Regions from separate parts of the Homo sapiens genome. Here regions 2 and 3 are each linked to region 1. The links come from fine-mapping of genetic effects on gene expression. A gene starts in region 1. Each other region holds a variant in brackets. All regions are shown on one strand. Distances are from middle to middle.

Region 1 (6,488 bases):
CTGCCAACCTCCAGCATCCCAAGTCCCCCAGTCACTCACAGTGACCACCTGAGAATTCTCCAGGTCCACATCCCAAGACATCCCCAGATCACTGAATCCAATAGGCCTGCTTCACAGACCTCCAGACCACACAACCACCGAACCCCATCAACCCCACTCTCACTCACCCCATGTGCCCCCATCACTCCCACAGGACCACAATGGCTGACTTCACAGGCCACCCAGTCTCTCTCCCCAAGAGGCCGCCCCTCCAGGGCCTTCAGAGACACACACTATGGGTTCCCCAGTGACCATCCAACAAAGACCCCAGGCGGTAACTCTAGTGGCCCCACAACAGCCTCCAGAAACACCTGACCACAGACTCCACAGACTGGCACAGTATAGACCACTAATCACAGATACCCAAAGGCCACTAACTTATTATTATCTTTTTTAAGATGGAGTCTCACTCTGTCATCAGGCTGGAGTGCAGTGGCAAAATCTCGGTTCACTGCAACCTCTGCCTCCTGGGTTCAAGCAATTCTCCTGCCTCAGCCTCCTGAGTAGGTGGGATTACAGGCGCCCACCACCATGCCCAGCTAATTTTTGTATTTTTAGTAGAGACGGGGTTTCACCATGTTGGCCAGGATGGTGTGGATCTCTTGACCTCCTGATCTGCCTGCCTCAGCCTCCCAAAGTGCTGGGATTACAGGTGTGAGCCACGGTGCCCAGCTAAGGCCACTAACTTCTAACTCCACATTCACCGCAAATGGCAAACAAACTCTTAGGCTCCCCAGGCTTCCCTCTCACTGACACCCACAGGGTCCCCAATTTCTCACCCTCACCCACCCGCACACCCATCACAGACACTTGCACGCATACTTGGCATTGATCCCAAGCCCTCCGATCATTCCTCCTCACAGACCTCACTGCCCACCCCATCAGTCATTCAGTCATCTCTGGTACCCGGTCACTAATACAAACAAGCTCCTTCTCACCTGGTTCCAACACCCTCAAATAACAAAGCCAATGCCAGGGCACGAGCCAATAAAACTGTCCCCCATTCAACGATGTACACTGGACCCTTTATTCCTAATCCTCCACAGGCCCCCAGACACTTACCATTCCTACGTCACACCATAGACCTCACAGGCCAGGCAGAGTTATCCCTACAGGCCCAACTGATGACTGGACCTCAGTGACTCCCACAGGGCTTTTAAATACAGATGCCAGACACCATAATCACCAGCACCCCCAAAGCCCCACTTAAGAATCACCACAGACTGAAACCCCAAACTCTGAGTCCCAAAGGATCCCCACAGAACTCAGATACTCCTGCAGATGAGCTGGGGAGGGGAGGAGAAGGGTGGGGAGCGGGGGAGAAGGGGCTTCAGTCACTCCTGCAGGTGAGGTGGGGAGGGGATGAGAAGGATGGGGGAGGAGAAGGGTAGGGAGGGGAGGAGAAGGGTGGGGAGGGGAGGAGAAGGGGCTTCTGTCCTGGGACGAACACACTGGTCTCCATTCACTCACTTCATCAGGTGCCCAAGTCAGGCGCTCACAGAGCCCCTCCCCTGTAACTGACATTCTGAGGCTTGCGCCACAGACCCCCTAAATTAGACCCCAGTCACTCAATGCCCAGGGATCCCTAATCCCTTATCCCCGGGGCCCCCAAGCATTCGCCCCCATGACACCCCATTCTCTAATCCACTCCATGCTGGAGCATTCACTGACATTCCCACAGGCCCTCCCAAACACCACCTGGAAAGGGATTGTGGGGCTCTGCACAAATGCCGATCCCGCAGGCCCCTCCAATGACGCCAAGTATGACCCCCGTTGTCCACGCACTCACAACTTGCAACAGGTCCACCATTAACTTACATCCAGACTCCCTTGTCACAAATACACAGCGCCATTCCTAATGCTTCCATCATAAGATCCCCAAACACAAGCACAGAAACAAACCCCAGCCACTCGCCAGCATAGGCCACCCCATACTCGCCTCCGCTATTGGAGACAGGGGTTGAAAGAGCAACCACTGTTATTCAGCTGTCAAATAAAACATACAACTGGACAGAGCAAAGAAAGACGGTTCCAAAGGGTTATTGGAAGTGGGGAAAAAAAGACGCGGAAGAGGGTTGGGAAGGGGAAGGAGAACGGGCTTCTGGGAAGAACCGTGAAGCCACGAGACTCACGTGCATCTCTGCAAGGCAAAAAGGGTTTTTCTTTCACAGAGAGGTGTGAACAAGGTTAGCAAAGACCAGGCCTGGCCAAGCGAGGTGGAAGTGCGGGCGACCAGACAGCAGAGCGGGGAAAGCTTGACCCTGAGCCAGCCTGTTCTCAGGCGAGGCTGCGTGTTGGCTCAGGCTGGGGATGGGCCAAAGCTCAAGAAAATGGGGAAAGGAAAGAAGCTTAGCTAAAGTTTGCTTAAGGAGCATTTTGCTCCGACCGCTCGGTGGAGTTCAGCCAGTCACCGATGAGGCAAGCGACGGCAACGTGGCAGGTCTGTGTGAACAAGGGGCATCCTGGAGGCTGACCAAAGTCATATAGGGAACGGGAGATCTTTGCAGTGAGCCATTTGCTGGAACCCAAAAGGGTGGGAAATTCCTCAACCTTCGCTGTTTTCCAGGAGCACAGGGCTCTGGTGAAATCCAACACTGTCACAGCCGGCAGGCTTTCCAGTGAATGGAACCCACACAAGCAAGCCCCTAAGCCCTCCAACGCAGGCCCCCGCAGAAGCCTCATCATTCACCCCGCTGGCCTCCAATGCTCACCCAAAGGCATCCAAATCATTCATCAGCAGAGTCCTAATCGCTGCAGACAAATCCTCCACACGGCCTCCCAGGGGCCCCTCTCCCCTGGGGCCAAGGGCAACCTCGCGTCCCCTTGCCCCGCCCGTGCTGCACCCCAAGTCTACAGCGACCTCCATAGGCCCCCAGTGAATCGCCCAGCTGACCCCAAATCTCCCCCGACACCCACATTCAGCGCCCCGCCGCCGCCCGCCCTACAGCCCCCACCCCACCCTCTGCCTCCCACCCCCGCGCGCCCCCAGAGCCCCCGCCTGAGGCCCGCCTTCCGCGCATGCGCCCAGGCCGGTCCGCAGGCCTTTCTCGCCCCAGCCGGCAGCCAGCTCGTTCGCGCTGGGGTCACCGCGAGCCGGTCCGCAGCGGGGTCACCGCGATCCCCGGCGCAGACACAGAGGCCGCCCCCAGCCCCGCCGCCTCGTGGTCCCGCCCCCGCTGCACGCTCCCTTACCCCTCGGACCTCGCAGGGCCGCGGCGGACACGGCCCGATCGGGGACGTGAACGCGCAGAACTACATTTCCCAGCGTCCCGCTCGCGCTGGAACTACACTTCCCGGGGGGCTCGGCGGTGCACCCGCCGGGGTCGCGGATTGGAGGTTTCCGGTTGGAAAAGCCCCTTGGCGGCTAACTGGGGAGGACTGGAAGAAATCTAGGATGGAGCCAGCACTGCTGGCCCAACATGTCTGTGAGAGAACCTAAAGGCGCCTCCAGGAGGAAGCGTCTGCATCTTTTCCTTGTTTTTTTTTTTTTTTTTTTTGGAGGCAGGGTCTCGCTCTGTCACCCAGTGGGGAGTGCAGTGGTGCCATGAACGCTCATTGCAGCCTCAGGCTGGTCTCCGACTCCTGGGTTCAAATGATCCTCCTGCCCCAGCCTCCCAAAATGCTGGAATTACAGGCATGAGTCACTGCGTCCGGCTGCTTTTCCATTTTTCATCGTAGCTGTAAGTAATATCGGTAAATGTTAGTGTTACGTGCGTCCGTATAGGAGACCACCTGAGCAGGCTAAGTGTGAGCAACACGCCTGTTTATTCACTTGGGTGCAAGTGGGCTGAGTCTGAGAAAGGAGTCAGCGGAGGGTGGTGGGCTTGTCATTGGTTCTTATAGCTTTGGGATAGGATAGGCGGTGGAGTCAGCAGCAATTTTTTTTTTTTTTTTTTTTTTTGAGACAGAGTCTCACTCTGTCGCCGAGGCTGGAGTGCAGTGGCGCGATCTCGGCTCACTGCAAGCTCCGCCTCCCGGGTTCACGCCATTCTCCTGCCTCATCCTCCTGAGTAGCTGGGACTACAGGCACCCGCCACCACGCCCGGCTAATTTTTTTGTATTTTTAGTAGAGACGGGGTTTCACTGTGTTAGCCAGGATGGTCTTGATCTCCTGACCTCGTGATCCGCCCTCCTCGGCCTCCCAAAGTGCTGGGATTACGGGCGTGAGCCACCGCGCCCGGCCTCAGCAGCAATTTTTTGCGGGCAGGGGAGGATGTTACAAAGTACATTCACAAGGGCGGGGAGGGTGTATTGTCACAAGGGCGGAGAGGAATGTTACAAAGTACATTCACAAGGACCGGGAATATTACAAAGTACATTATCACAAGGGTGGGGGAATGTCACGATGGCTTGACCATGGTGCGGCCAGCTCAGAGGACCTTACATTTAGTACATCCAATCCAGCAGTATTGACAAAAGGAATGAAAATAGATGATAGGGTTGGGCGCGGTGGCTCACGGCTGTAATCCCAGCACTTTGGGAGGCTGAGGTGGGCGGATCACCAGGTCAGGAGATTGAGACCATCCTGGCCAACACGGTGAAACCCCGTCTCTACTAAAAATACAGAACATTAGCTGGGCGTGGTGGTGGGCGCCTGTAATCCCATCTACTCGGGAGGCTGAGGCAGGAGAATCACTTGAACTCGGGAGGCGGGGGTTGCGGTGAGCCATCATGCCGCTGCACTCTAGCCTGGCAACAGAGTGAGACCTCATCTCAAGAAAAAAAAAAGGAAAAATAAATGAGATGAGGACATTACAGGGAAATAAAATATATTTATGGATATATAAAGCAGTGGCTTGTCCCTGTAGTCCCAACTACTGGAGGCTGAGGCAGGAGGATTGCCTGAGCCTGGGAGGTTGAGGCTGCAGTGAGCTATGATGGCAACACTGCACTCCAGCCTGGGCCACAGAGGGAGACACCTTCTCTTAAAAATATTTTTTGGCCAGGCCAGGCGCGGTGGCTCACACCTGTAATCCCAGCACTTTGGGAGGCTAAGGCGGGCGGATCACCTGAGGTCAGGAGTTCGAGACCAGCCTGACCAACATGGTGAAACCCCATCTGTACTAAAAATATAAAAATTAGCCAGGTGTGGTGGCTCATGCCTGTAATGGCTCATACCTGTAATCCCACCTACTCAGGAGGTGGAGGCATGAGAATTGCTTGAACCCAGGAGGCAGAGGTTGCAGTGAGCTGAGATCTCACCACTGCACTCCACCCTGGGAGACAGAGTGAGATTCTGTCTAAAAAAAAAAAAAAAGAAAAAGAAAAACTGTAAAAGCATATTAGTTTTTTAAAATAAAAATGGGGAGAAACAGGAAACACACTCACAATTGGCAATTTAAAAAATTGAAATGGCCATAAAGACCAAATTAAAGTATATATGAAATAATATTTTGCTCAATTCTATATTAGTAAATTTGGAGCCTGTGAGAGATGGAGTTTTGCTCTTGTCGCCCAGGCTGGAGTGCAGTGGCACAATATCGGCTCACTGCAGCCTCCGCCTCCTGAGTTCAAGTGATTCTCCTGCCTCAGCCTCCCGAGTAGCTGGGATTGCAGGCGTGCGCCACCACGCCCGGCTAATTTTTGTATTTTTAGTAGAGACGTGGTTTCACCATGTTGGTCAGGCTGATCTTGATCTCTTAACCTCGTGATCCGCCTGCCTCGGCCTCCCGAAGTGCTGGGATTACAGGCGTGAGCCACTGCGCCCAGCCACTCCCAGCTACTTTTTGTATTTTTAGTAGAGATGGGTTTCACCATGTTGGCAAGGCTGGTCTCAAACTCCTGACCTCTGGTGATCCATGCGTCTCGGACTCCCAAAGTGCTGGGATTACAGACCTGAGCCACCGTACCCAGCCCACATTGCCCTGCTTCTAACTGAGATTCAACTTTATTTAAGCAAACCAATTCCATGCTCAACAGAGCTAAAATTAAAATTCTGCTTTAAGGTAGTTTTGTTTTTGTTCTCAGAAAATTTTGCTGTTCACAGATTTATGATTTTCACTTTTCTCCGAGGTTAAGCGTGTCATTTATTAAATGACTTACTAGAATTTATACGCCTTTTTTTTTTTTTTTTTTTTGAGATGGAGTCTTGCTCTGTCACCCAGGCTGGAGTGCAGTGGCGCGATCTCAGTTCACTGCTACCTCTGCCTCCTGGGTTGAAGCAATTCTCCCGCCTCTGCCCCCCGAGTAGCTGGGATTACAGGCACCCACCATCATGCCTGGCTAATTTTTTGTATTTTTGTAGAGACGAGGCTTCACCATGTTGGCCAGGCTGGTGTCGAACTCATGACCTCAGGTGATCCGCCTGTCTTGGCCTCCCAAAGTGCTGGGATTACAGGCATGAGCCACTGAGCATGGCCATGGCCTTTTCTTTCATTCCAATTTTGGTCAGGAAAGAAAACAGTTTCTCTCTCTAAAAAAAAATTCCATGGCTTAAGTAAAACTTGTAA
Region 2 (6,488 bases), 35 kb before region 1:
GGGTGTATCTGGATGCTTATGGATGACAACAAATTGAAAACTGATGATAATTCAGATTTAATTTGGGGATACCTGGTTGGAATGGAAACCAGAGTTTATTTGCAAATTGCTCCCAGTGATCACACTCACACATATGAATTCATGAAACAGTTTACTCAGTTAACATTTGCATACAGAGATTTTCTTTTCAAACAGAGCACAGAAGGAAGTGTCAGTAACAGGTCTGACCTCGCACAGCTGCCCATGCAATGATGAGTGGATCAAACACTACGGCTTATACAAGATGCTCCTCACAGAATGAAAAACAGCTGCTCATTTTCAGTTAGCTATTAGCCTTTTAGCCCCACCCTTGTTTTCTCTTTTTTTGAGACGGAGTCTCACTCTGTTGCTCAGGCTGGAGTGCAGTGGTGGTGCCATCTTGGCTCACTGCAACCTCCAACTCCTGGGTTCATGTGATTTGCCCACCTCAGCCTCCCGAGCAGCTGGGTTTACAGGTGCTCCACCACACCCGGCTATTTTTTTTGTTTTGTATGTTTAGTAGAGATAGGGTTTTGCCATGTTGGCCAGGCTGCTCTTGAGCTCCTGAACTCAAGTGATCCACCCACCTTGGCCTCCCAAAGTGCTGGGATGACAGGCGTGAGCCATCGCACCTGGCCAGCCTTACCCTTGTAATGAAGCAGTGAAGTACAGCTGGCCCACATCTCAGCCAACATCATCTTCTTACAGAATCTGCTTCATACAAACGCATTACACACAACAGGACACAATGCACATGCCTTGTTCATACCCTCAGAGCTGCCTGGCAAATACCATGGTTTGGGGACGAATCTACACTAGACCTGCCTGGCTGCAGTGGTAACACTCCATTGCCTAACTGCTCCTTTCACATGAGCACGCACTAATGAAAATAAAAAGTTAATTCACTTCTCCCACCCCCTATTGTAAGTTTAAGCTTGATTTGTTTTTTTAAGTACTTTTAGTGATAGGAATGCTTACTTGCTTTATTAATTATTTTTGTGGAGAACAAAGTGCCACTATGTTGCCCAGGCTGGCCTCAAACTCTTGGGCTCAAGCTCTCCTCTCCTCCCAGCTGGGCCTCCCAAAGTCCTGGGATTGCAGGCATGAGCCACCACATCTGGCCAGTAATGCCTTTTTTTTTTTTTTTTTTTTTTTTGAGATGGAGTCTCGCTTTGTCGCTCAGGCCAGAGTGAGTGCAGTGGCGCGATCTCAGCTCACTGCAAGCTCCGCCTCCCGGGTTCACGCCATTCTCCTGCCTCAGCCTCCCGAGTAGCTGGGACTACAGGCGCCCGCCACCACGCGCGGCTAATTTTTTGTATTTTTAGTAGAGACGGGGTTTCACCTTGTTAGCCAGGATGGTCTCAATCTCCTGACCTCGTGATCCACCCATCTTGGCCTCCCAAAGTGCTGAGATTACAGGCATGAGCCACCATGCCCGGCCCTGGCCAGTAATTCTTAAATGAGAACTTCAAGTTATAAATGTCCCTTCACTTACATTTCTTTTCATCTTAACAGTGAATGCCTCGATAGCTACATTCTTTTTGCTGTGCACATTTCGAGATTTAGGTATCACTAAATAAGTTTGGTGTTCCCTGTTTTTTTGTGTGTGTGTGTGATGGAGTCTTGCTCTGTCACCCAGGCTGGAGTGCAGTGGTGTGATCTCAGCTCACTGCAACATCGGCTTCCTGGGTTCAAGCGATTCTCCTGCCTCAGCCTCCGGAGTAGCTGGGACTACACACGTGCCACCAAGCCCGGCTAATTTTTGCATTTTTAGTAGAGATGGGGTTTCACCATATTGGCCAGGCTGGTCTCGAACTCCTGACCTTGTGATCTGCCTGCCTTAGCCTCCCAAAGTGTTATGATTACAGGTGTGAGCCACCGCGCCCAGCGCCTGATTTATTTATTTTTTTGAGACAGAGCCTCGCTCTATCACCCAGGCTGGAGTGCAGTGGTGTGATCTTGGCTCACTGCAAGCTCCACCTCCCAGGTTCACGCCATTCTCCTGCCTCAGCCTCCTGAGTAGCTGGGACTACAGGCGCTGGCCACCTCACCTGGCTAATTTTTTGTATTTTTAGTAGAGACGGGGTTTCACCGTGTTAGCCAGGATGGTCTCGATCTCCTGACCTCGTGATCCACCCGCCTTGGCCTCCCAAAGTGCTGGGATTACAGGCGTGAGCCACCGCGCCTGGCCTGGTTTATTTAATGTTAGCATTCTGACAAGATGTTAAATGACCCGGATACAATGAGTAATAATTGTGTTCTAAGTTGCAAAGATCCCATAAGGGAAATAAAGAATTATTAAATATCATCACCAACTTCACAGATTTGGTCTCAAAGTAAATCTGCTACATACTAAATAATTTAAATTAATATGGTGATGGAGTGTGTGGCGTTGGAAGAAAACTTGTTGAAGAAAGCTTACTTTATTTTTATTCATTTAAGAGGCAAGGTTTCACTCTGTCACTCAGGCTGGAATGCAGTGGCCCCATCATGGCTCACTGCAGCCTTGAACTCCTGGGCTCAAGTGACCCTTCTGCCTCAGCTTCCCAAGTAGCTGGGATTACAGACATGCACCATCATGGCTAACTTTTTTTTTGAGATGGAGTTTTGTTCTTGTTGCCCAGACTGGAGTGCAATGCCGTGATCTCGGCTCACTGCAACCTCCTCCTCCCAGGTACAAGTGATTCTCTTGTCTCAGCCTCCCAAGTAGCTCGGATTACAGGCATGTGCCACCATGCCCGGCTAATTTTTTTGTATTTAGTAGAGACGGGGTTTCACCATGTTATTCAGGCTGGTCGCGAACTCCTGAACTCAGGTGATCCACCCACCTCGGCCTCCCAAAGTGCTGGGATTACAGGCTTGCGTCACTGCACCCAGCCTCTCATGGCTAATTAAATTTTTTTTTTGTAGAGATGAGTCTTGCTATGTTGTCCA[GCTGGTCTCAAACGC/G]CTGGGCTCAAGCGGTCCTCCCAATTTGGCCTCCCCAAGCACTGGGATTACAGGTGTGAGACACCACCCCCAGTTGAAAAGTTACTTTGGATATAACTGATTTGAATTTTATTCTTGTGAAATAGTGATGAGATTTTATATTGTCTACTTCTAAGCGGCAGACAGTCATCATGAGGCAAATAAAATTTTCTAAGGTAAGGAGAGTGAGAATGGCCTTTCCCCTTTAGTCTATGGCAAAATAAAGGGGGGCATGGGAGAATCCTGATGGTGGAAATCATTTTATTCTCATACACAGGTTATTACAGCACAATTAGGAAGAGACAATCACAACTCACACAATGCTATATTCAAATTATGCCAAAGTCCCAACATATTCATTTCATTTGCAAGTTAATTCCTAAAAGATCAGAGCAGAGTGATACACAAGTTTATTAACACAGACTACAACGTCAATGAAGCCTCCTGGCATTGTCGGAAATAGAAAACATGTATAAAAATCTTCGAAATGCAGGTTAAAATGCAAATCCAAGTGAAAGGAAAAAGCACTACTGTGAAGCCTAACGGCAATTATTTCCCTTCAAAGGAGGTTTGTGTCCAGCTGGAGAGAAGGCCTGGTGGACAGAAGACAAAGGAAGGCAAAATTCCTAAGGGAGAAATTCAAAAAAATGATGGGGGTGCTGCCCTCTGCTGGGCCTCTTTGGCAGTCGACTTCAACTTAATGCATTAGCGCCGTAAGGTTGTAAGAGAAGCAACTCTGGCTTGATCTTAGAAAAGCTGATTTTCTTTTTGGCAGCATATTTCCGGTGAGAACTGATGGGAAAGGTGGTGTGGATTCGTGGACGAAGTCTCTAACGTAATCTTGACTACTGAAGGGTAAAGACTTGCCCACAGGTTAGAGATTACATGAATTATCCACAACGAATGGTAGCAGATGATGGGTCAGGGGTATTTTAATTGTACAGCATAACACTTTAGAGAGCTGGGAAGTATGGGACATCATTCCCGTCTTTCTTCACTCAGTAACTGATTATCTTGTTTCTTGTCCACAGATATTTAACCTAAATAACAATGCTTTTTGAAGGTTGTTTGGCTAACCCAGAGGTAGTAAAAGACTTCATAAGTCTTTCTATTACTGAAGAGGAGCTTAGTAATAACTGCAAGTCTATTTATATATGTAGCAGATGGTAACAATCTCCAGAGCCACTGACATATGCAGCAGAAAAGCACAAAGAACTTTGTATTTGTTATAATTTCTACTGCATTGTCCAGATACAGATAGAAAATACTGATATGTAGTGTGGGGAATCTTGAGACATTTCAGCCTATGCACTATGCGGCACTTGTACTGATAACTGATTATCACAATTTTATTAAATGCTCATCATTTAACAGATGGCACAGAAAATAAATGGCACACTCAGAATATTAACTCAAGAACAATTAATAAAGGCACTATTTACAAATATGTGTTCACAATTAAAGACACCCAACCAGTGGGTTGGGGAAGCACCCAGTAGTAGTTAAGTCTGAAGATCATGGAGAGGGAATGGTGTCAACTGAAACCGAGAGATCTACAGCCATAGATGGGGCTTCCCAAAGGAAGCTGTATCCTTACGGGAACACAGAAGCTACCATGGTCCAGGCAGGAGGAAGGGAACGGTAATAAATAACTTTTTCTCCTCCCACCTCTGGTATCTCCCACTGTTCAAACCTATGAAGAAACCCCAGTCTCTAGAAGACAGCCTCAGGGGGGAGCAGAGCAGAAAATGGGGGAAAAGGGATCAAAGAAATAGGGAATACTCAGCACACATGCAGATCCACAATACATACAATTTCTGTCATGTGCCTGCTACAAATTCAAGCTACCCCGAGCCCTGAAGGAATAGGCTTCTAACTCAGATGATGCAGTCTACTCAACTATATTTAAAAATTCACACTTAAGTGTTATCGTCATCACACTTTACTTCTAAATAAACTCCAAATACGTTATCATTACTTTGGCTTTAAGCAGCCAATTCCCTTTTAAAAAGATTTTAAAAAGAGAGAAATATCTTTTATATTTACCCACATATTCACCATTTTCAGAACTTCATTCCTTTGTACAGACCCAAACTTAAGTTTTGTATTATTTTCCTGCTGCCCTCAAACATCCTTTAATGTTTCCCAAAGACAGGTCTACAGGTAATAAAATTACCTTTGATTTAGTTTCTCAGAAACAGTCTTTATTTTGCCTTCATTTTTGAAAACGTTTTTGACAGTAACAGAATTCTAGGTTGCAGGGTTTGTTGTTTATTTCATTAAGGAATTTAGAGATAATACTCCATTGTCTTATAGCTTGCATAGTTCTCACCAGAAATATGCTGCCATTCTTTGTTCATGTGTATGTATTATCTTTTTTTCTCAAGGTGTTTTAAAAGTATTCTGTTTATCAGTGCTTTTCATGAATGTGACTCTGAGGTGCACTGCTGTGATGTAAATTATGTTTATTCTACTTCAGGTCATTTGAGCTTCTTGAATATGTGGGGGTATTGTTTTCACCAGATTTGGAAAATCTTTAGCCATTATTTATTCAAATACTTCTTCATGCCTCTTCATTTTCTCCTCTCCTTCTGGGACTCCAGTTAAACATATATTACACTACTGTAATGGTTTTCCTATTCTCTTCCTCTTCTCTAAGTCTTTTTTTCTCTCTGTATATCACTTTGGTAGTTTTTATTCTTACTCTTCAAGTTCATTGATTTTTTCTTCTTTTTCTGTATCTAATCTCTCCACTCGGGATTTTAACAAAATCAGAAGTTGATTTCATCCCTAGAAGTTCCATTTTGGCCAGTAAAAATATCTCTTATACCTCAGGTTTCATCAATCTTATGTTTTCCTCTACTTTATATTTACAATAGCTCTTTTAATATCCTTGTCTACTAATTCCATCACCTCTGTCTTTTCTGGGTTTCTACTGATTTTTCTCCTGGTTATAAGTCATATTTTATTGCTTCTTTGCATAACACATTAGTTTTTTTGGATGCCGGACACTGTAGGTCCAGAGTAGCTTTTAATCTAGAGTTAATTAGCTGCACTACTAAAACAAAACCTTTCTGAGAATTCTACCTGATGCTCCATGTGTTTCCACTCTGTTTCCACTCTGGCTGCTGAGAACATAAACTATTCCCAGCCCTGCATGAGTTCCAGGAATTGTTCAGCCTGCTGCTTTCCAGTGCTTCTTTTCCTGGCCTCAGTGCAAGTCAGTACTAAGTCAAAGGACTCAGGGGACTCCCAGCAGACTTCTTGAGCCCTGTATCTAGAAGGATCCCATCTCTCCAGTACTTTCCCCTGGAAATTCTAGCTGCTGTGGCCTCCCCAACTGCCAGTCCTGTCTCTTCAATTCAGCGAGATTTATTGTTTCCCTTCCCTGAACTGCAACCTAGGAACTGCCATGCGGGGGCAGGCTGAGAAACCATGGTGCTCACCTCACTCTGTCTGCAGTCTCCTGAGGATCACAAACCTGTGCTTGTCCTATGTCTAAAA
Region 3 (6,488 bases), 23 kb before region 1:
TTATTTCTTTCCTTCATAGTACTTATCAAATAGGTAATCCTCTTACTCGTGTCTCTCCCAGTAGAATGTAAACTGTATGAGTGTAGGGAACAGGTTTGTCTTTTTCACTAATGTACCCCCACTGCATAGCACATAACAAGCCCTCAATATAGGTAGGATAAATATTATTCACTTGTCATTGAGCTTCTAATATAGTTCCTTTTGGTATCATTAATCTTGGCAATTAATTTTGCACTTTAACACAAATGCTTCATGTTCAAATACTGCATCACTAAATATTTTATGGTTTTATATTGTCTTCTAAATTAAAATCCTATAAAGTTATTTCATGACTCATTTCAATTCCTCTCATTCCACATGAGAAGTGGTTCTAAATTAATAGGGGAATATAACAACTATCTTTACAGCTTTTCCAAACTGCACACACTCAGACCTAAACAACAATGGGAATGGTGCCCAGACATCTGTAACCCGAAATATTTCCCTGCTGTGCATTATGCCTCACCCCTGTAATCTCAGTTTCCCTGCTGTGCATTATGGCTCTTCCTGTAATCCCAGCACTTGGGGAGGCCAAGGCGGGAGGATCACTTGAACCCAGAGTTTGAGACCAGCCTGGGCAACATAGTGAGATCCTGTCTCTCCAGAAAAACCAAATTTTTAAAAATTAGCTTGGTGTGGTGGTAGTCTCAGCTACTGGGGAGGCTAAAGTGGGAGGAGCTCATGAGTCCAGATAGGTTAAGGCTGCAGTAAGCTGTGACTGCGCCACTGTACTCCAACCTGCGTGACAAAGTGAGACCTTGTCTCAAAAAAATTTTTTAAATAAATATTTCCCAGGGTAGAGGCTTAGATGGAAACTTTTCTACTGAAGGGACATCTGATAAACAAGACCTTTCCTTATCTGGGTCCATAATAACCAATTTTTAAAAATCAAGTAAGTGCATACCACAAATTCCACAGAGAACACAGACTACGTTACTGGCAATCTCTCTTTATGGGGAAAAAAATCTTAGGACTAGTTGTTTTAGGAATTTCAGATAATGTCCATCAGGCCTGAGTTACTATACTATAGATGCTACGTGGATAGAGATTTCAGAGAAAGCTGTGAGTCAAGGAACATTCACTGAAGTTGAAGAAAAGAGCTCAAAGTGAAGTCTACCTGGGGAAAATGTACCATAATCAGAGGTACAGATGCAGAGAAAAATTTCAGAAGAGCGTGTGAGGAAGAATCTAGCTCAGATGGAGTTAATAATGACTCTTGAGCACAAATCTAGCTCAAATGGAGTTAATAATGACTCTTGAGCATAGAAAAATAAGTGGAGAGATAAGATGTTCCCATACCATGAGATTCTTCAACAAAAACGGAGATTAAATATCACACAGCAGGTAATGGAGACTTAAACCCACCTGACTATGTGATGGTATGAGAGAGAAGCTTTAGAGAAGTTAAACATCAAATGTACCAGAAAGATGCACTGGGAACTGACTTGAAAATCCTTAGTTTGTACAGAGGAAGGTAAGAAGCAAAATCTCCTTACTATGTTTAAGGTATTAGGGTTTTGTGTGTGTGTGTTTTTGTTTTTAGAGACAGGGTCTCACTCTGTTGCCTAGCACATCCATGGCACACTGCAGCTTCCAGCTCCTTGGGTCAAGCAATCCTCCCACCTCAGCCTCCCAGGTAGCTGGCACTAGAGGTGCACACCACCATATTTGGCTGAATTATTATTATTATTGTTAGGTATTATTAGTAGTAGTAGATATGGGGTCTTGCTTTGTTGCCCAGGTTGGTCTCAAACTCCTGGCCTTAAGTGACTGTCGTGCCCTGCCCTCTCCCCAACCTCCACAGCATGAGGATTACAGTATGAGCTACTGCGCCCAGCCTAGATTTTCACTCTGTATCAGTGGGTTCATCTTCTACTCTCTGTGGTTTTAAAATAGAAATATATCAAATTAGAGGAAGAGAAGAAAAATAATAAATTAAAAGTTTGAAGTTTAAATAAACTCAAAGGCAATCAGTGTTATCTAAAAGAAGAAAAAAATTATGAATTCATAAAGAGAGCCTTAACTAAGAAAGTGGGGTTGTAAATGGCCACCAATCTATGCCACTGAATAAGAGGGATACATTTCATCATAAACTCCATGGAGAAAAGACACATCCCGATGTGGAGACCAGGTTATGGAGCACATCCATTAAAACTCATGTCACCAATCTTGAGTCAACTCTAAAGATTCAGGAACTTTAAACACAGTTTTATAAACAACACTTTAAAAGTGCCCACCTGTCATCAAAAACCTGAGATAAAATGTTCACTGTATCTCATAAACCTGATTATTCCTCACCTGAAAAGTTCTGATTTAGGATTTCTTGACCTATTATCCATGGATCTTGTTGTTCCAGTTTGAACATTGCATCAGGTTTGAGAATTTGAAAACCTGTCGATTGGAAACACAGAGGACTTGGACCTAACTGCCTGGGCTAAGAGTCTTAAATATGTAGAATGTTTTATTATAAAGGCTGCAAAATAAAGCAAGTGAATGAAAATCTTTCAATTCAGTATAAAAGTCAAATAATCTTTGACATGTAAAACTTACATCCAAAATAAACAAACACCTCACAGGCCAGTTACTGGCCATACACTAAGTTACATAAGAATGTTCTTACCCAAGAAAACCAGATTGCTATAGTTCTCCAACATCACATCTCTGTACAAGTTCTTCTGAGTAGGATTAAGTAGCTGCCATTCCTCCAGCGTGAAATCCACAGCCACATCCTCAAATGATATCTGGAAAAGCATAATCCCTGTTAAACCTGAAGTGGTTCTCATTTGGTCTTGTAAAATACTTTCTTCTGTATTTGTGGTAGGTGGCCTCTAAGATGGCCCCAGTGACCTCTGACTCCGGTATTCATGCTTTTGCATAATCCTCCCCTCTTGACCGTGGGCTGGACTCACTGACTCATTGTCCTGAACAGAACAGGGAAACATGATGAGATGCCACTTCCAAGACTAGGTTAGAAAGAAATGCAACTTCTATCCTGGGCACTCTCTCTCTCTGGAGGAGTCTGGCTGCTGTGTTGTAAGGCCGCCATGTGGAAGCTCATGTGCCGTGGAACTGAGGCTTCCCAACAGCCACTGAGTGAGCCTGGAGGAGCCAGCTCCTTCCTCGCTGCAGCCCTTCTCAACACCTTCATCACTGCATCATGTGAGACCCTCAACCAGAACCAACTGGGCAAGTACCTGGCAGATTCCAAAACCCAGAAACAGATCAATGTTTGTTGTTTTCAGCCCTTGAGGTTTGGGGTAATTTGTGACACAATAATGAATAACCAATATAATCTAATATAATAAATATAATAATCTTGCATTATGCCTTGAGGAAGGAATGTTTTAAAAATATTTATCATTGTGAATTCATTCATCCATGTACCTATCCACTGAACAAGAAACCAGAATAGGTTGTCTTTAAACAATACAGTGGTTCTCAAAGAAGGTGCCACTAGTATTTGAGAACCATTCTTAGGTAAGGAATACTGTTCCATGCAGTTGAGCCCTTCAGCATGCCTGGCCTCTGTCTGCTAATGACAGTAATATCTCTCAGTCACTGGCTGGGCACGGTGGCTTATGCCTGTAATCCCAGCACTTTGGGAGGCTGAGGTGGGCGGATCACCTGAGGTCAGGAATTCAAGACCAGCCTGGCCAACATGGTGAAACCCCAACTCTATTA[A/AAC]ACACACACACACACACATGCACACACACACAAATTAGCTGGGGGTGGTGGTGGGCACCTGCAATCCCAGCTACCAGGGAGGCTGAGGCAGGAGAATCACTTGAACCTGGGAGGTGGAGGTTGCAGTGAGCCAAGATCGTGCACCTGCATGCAGCCTGGGCAACAGAGCAAGACTCTGTCTCAAATAAATAAATAAATAAATAAACAACAACAAAAACAAAAACACTCTCTTTCCTCTGGGAGTGATTCTGCTCCCAAGTAAGAACTGGCCAGCTATTTTAGGTATCTTCCAAAACACACATATTGAGCAATTAAGATTCCAGGAACCATCTGGGTGTGGTGGCTCACACCTGAAATCTCAGCACTTTGGGAGGCCAAGGCAGGTGGATCACCTGAGGTCAGGAGTTGGAGACCAGCCTGGCCAGCACTGTAAAACCCCATCTCTACCAAAAATACAAAAATTAGCCAAGTGTGGTGGTGTGTGCCTGTAATCCCAGCTACTCGGGAGGCTGAGACAGGAGAATAGCTTGAACCCAGAAGGTAGAGGTTGCAGTGAGCTGAGATTGTGCCGCTGCACTCCAGCCTGGTGACAGAGCAAGATTCCGTCTAAAAAAAAAAAAAAAAAAAGATTCCAGGAACCATAACAGGTACTAGAAATTTAAAAATGAGTAGAAAAAAATCACATTCTCAAGTACCTTTCAGGCCAGAGTGAATAAGGTTACAGGGCTATGAAGCTAGCATTTACAGAATATAGAGACAAAACGGGGATAAAAACACTGGATTTAACAACACTGGGTTAGGTGCTGTAAAGACAGTAAGGCTTAGAAAGGGTCTTTAGAAAGTCCTGGTTACAGAGGGGGATGAGGAAAAGGACACTCTCAAGGCAGCAGCATGAGCAAAGACATGGAAATAAAGTGTGTTTTCTGAGGGATGAAAGTTCAGGAATATAAGAGAGGGAGTGGGAGCGGTGGGAATGGTCCTGGCCTCTTTAAAAGGGAACGTGGAAACCTAGAGAGGTAAGCAGAGGCCAGCCTTCAGCTGGACTCAAGTAAATTTGAGCATTCCAGTCCCAGCAGCTACAAGGGACACAGGAAAAAGGAGGAAAGCTTAGAATAAGCCCAAGCATAGGGGACTAATAGGTTATTTTCCCTCATAAAGCTGGAACACAAGGAGTACTCCGTGTGTGGGTCAATGAAAAAAAAATCAAAGAAAATCAATTTCTTGCCTCAAATGTTAGTGTTACACAAAGAGGTCAAAAATTGTCCCTGAGAATTATAACAAGCTGGATTTATATGGGTGTGTGGGCTCAACTCCAGTATAGATGTGTTTTGCAAAAACCTTAAGCACAGAGAGTTCTAAAGTGTTTTTGAGGGGGCCATGCATTCAGGCATCCGGCAGAATCAAATGCAAATTCTATTTAGAGAAAGAGATCAAAATAATTCTCACAAATAAAGATTCAAGAAAAATGAGTACAGAGTAAAAGAGAAACCGGAATGCACACATAAAAAAAAAATCATCCAGGTGCGGTGGCTCACGCCTGTAACCCCAGCACTTTGGGAGGCCGAGGCAGGTGGATCACGAGGTAAGGAGATCGAGACCATCCTGGCTAACATGGTGAAACCCCATCTCTACTAAAAATACAAAAAAATTAGCCGGGCATGGTGGTGGGCGCCTGTAGTCCCAGCTACTCGGGAGGCTGAGGCAGGAGAATGGCGTGAACCCGGGAGGCGGAGGTTGCAATGAGCAGAGATCGTACCACTGGACTCCAGCCTGGGTGACAGAGTGAGACTCTGTCTTAAAAAAAAAAAAAAAAAAATTAGCCGGGCGTGGTGGTGGGTGCCTGTAGTCCCAGCTACTCGGGAGGCTGAGGCAGGAGAATGGCGTGAACCCAGGAGGTGGAGCTTGCAGTGAGCCGAGATGGCGCTACTGCACTCCAGCCTGGGCGACAGAGCAAGACTCCATCTCAAAAAAAACCAAAAAAAAACAAACAGGAGTGGTATAAAAGACTTAGGATATTTGAACTGTCAGCACAGAATATAAAATAAATATATTTAATATATTCAAAGAAATGAGAGGTTAATGAAAGTACGAAAAATAATCAGAAGACTATAAAAATGAATAAGCAGATTTGAAAAAAATGAAATATAACTTCTAGAGATAAAATGCATAATAAGTAAAGTTAAGAAGTCAATGGAAGGGCTTAAGAGTAGATTAGGAAAAGATAAAGAGAGAATAAGTGAATTGGAAGATAGACCAGAAGAAATAATAAAGCAAAAGCTCAGAAATGGAAAATATAAAGCAACCCCAGCTACATGCTGCCTACGAAAGAGGCACATTTATATTCAAAATAGTTTAAACATAAAAGGACTCACATTACTTGATTTCAAGACTTCCTATGCAACCACAGTAATTAAGGCAGGATGGCATTTGTGAAAGGATAAAAACACAAGTTAATGGAACAGAACACAGAACTCAAAAATAAGCCCCTACAAATATACTCAATTGTTTCACAAAAGTACAAAAAGCAATTCTACAGTCTTTGTGACAAATAATGTCTCAACAATTTTATACTCATAAGCAAAAGGGATCTCAACACATACCTCACACCTTATATCAAAACTAACTCAAAATGGATCACAGACCTAAACATAAAAAACTATAAAACTTTTAGAAGAAAACCAAAGAAAACCTGTGTGACTTTGGGTTTGGCAATGAGTTAGATACAACACCAAAAGCCTGATCAATTTAAGAAAAAAATTTGATAAATT

Evidence for each region. PIP is the estimated chance that this variant, and not a neighbour inherited with it, causes the effect.
Region 2: its variant is the best candidate, but not a certain one, in a credible set for the expression of ZNF605 in whole blood (TOPMed, PIP 0.58).
Region 3: its variant is the best candidate, but not a certain one, in a credible set for the expression of ZNF605 in prefrontal cortex (CommonMind, PIP 0.58).

The regions. Positions count from the first base shown.
Region 1 is chr12:132,953,012-132,959,499 of GRCh38, forward strand. It overlaps ZNF605 (zinc finger protein 605), which reads right to left and starts at 3,295. Exons shown (of 5, transcript NM_183238.4): 1 at 3,232-3,295. LOC124903064 (a long non-coding RNA gene) reads left to right here and starts at 3,538. Exons shown (of 2, transcript XR_007063552.1): 1 at 3,538-3,719. RefSeq lists enhancers at 2,013-2,843, 2,272-2,566, 2,844-3,672, 3,426-3,505 and a silencer at 2,926-3,265.
Region 2 is chr12:132,918,230-132,924,717 of GRCh38, forward strand. ZNF605 (zinc finger protein 605) reads right to left here. Exons shown (of 5, transcript NM_183238.4): 5 at 77-6,488. Among named protein-coding and RNA genes, the nearest start is that of CHFR-DT, 34 kb to the left of the region's middle. The variant GCTGGTCTCAAACGC/G (reference allele first, on the strand shown) is at 2,953.
Region 3 is chr12:132,930,376-132,936,863 of GRCh38, forward strand. It overlaps ZNF605 (zinc finger protein 605), which reads right to left. Exons shown (of 5, transcript NM_183238.4): 4 at 2,660-2,780. Among named protein-coding and RNA genes, the nearest start is that of ZNF605, 23 kb to the right of the region's middle. The variant A/AAC (reference allele first, on the strand shown) is at 3,721.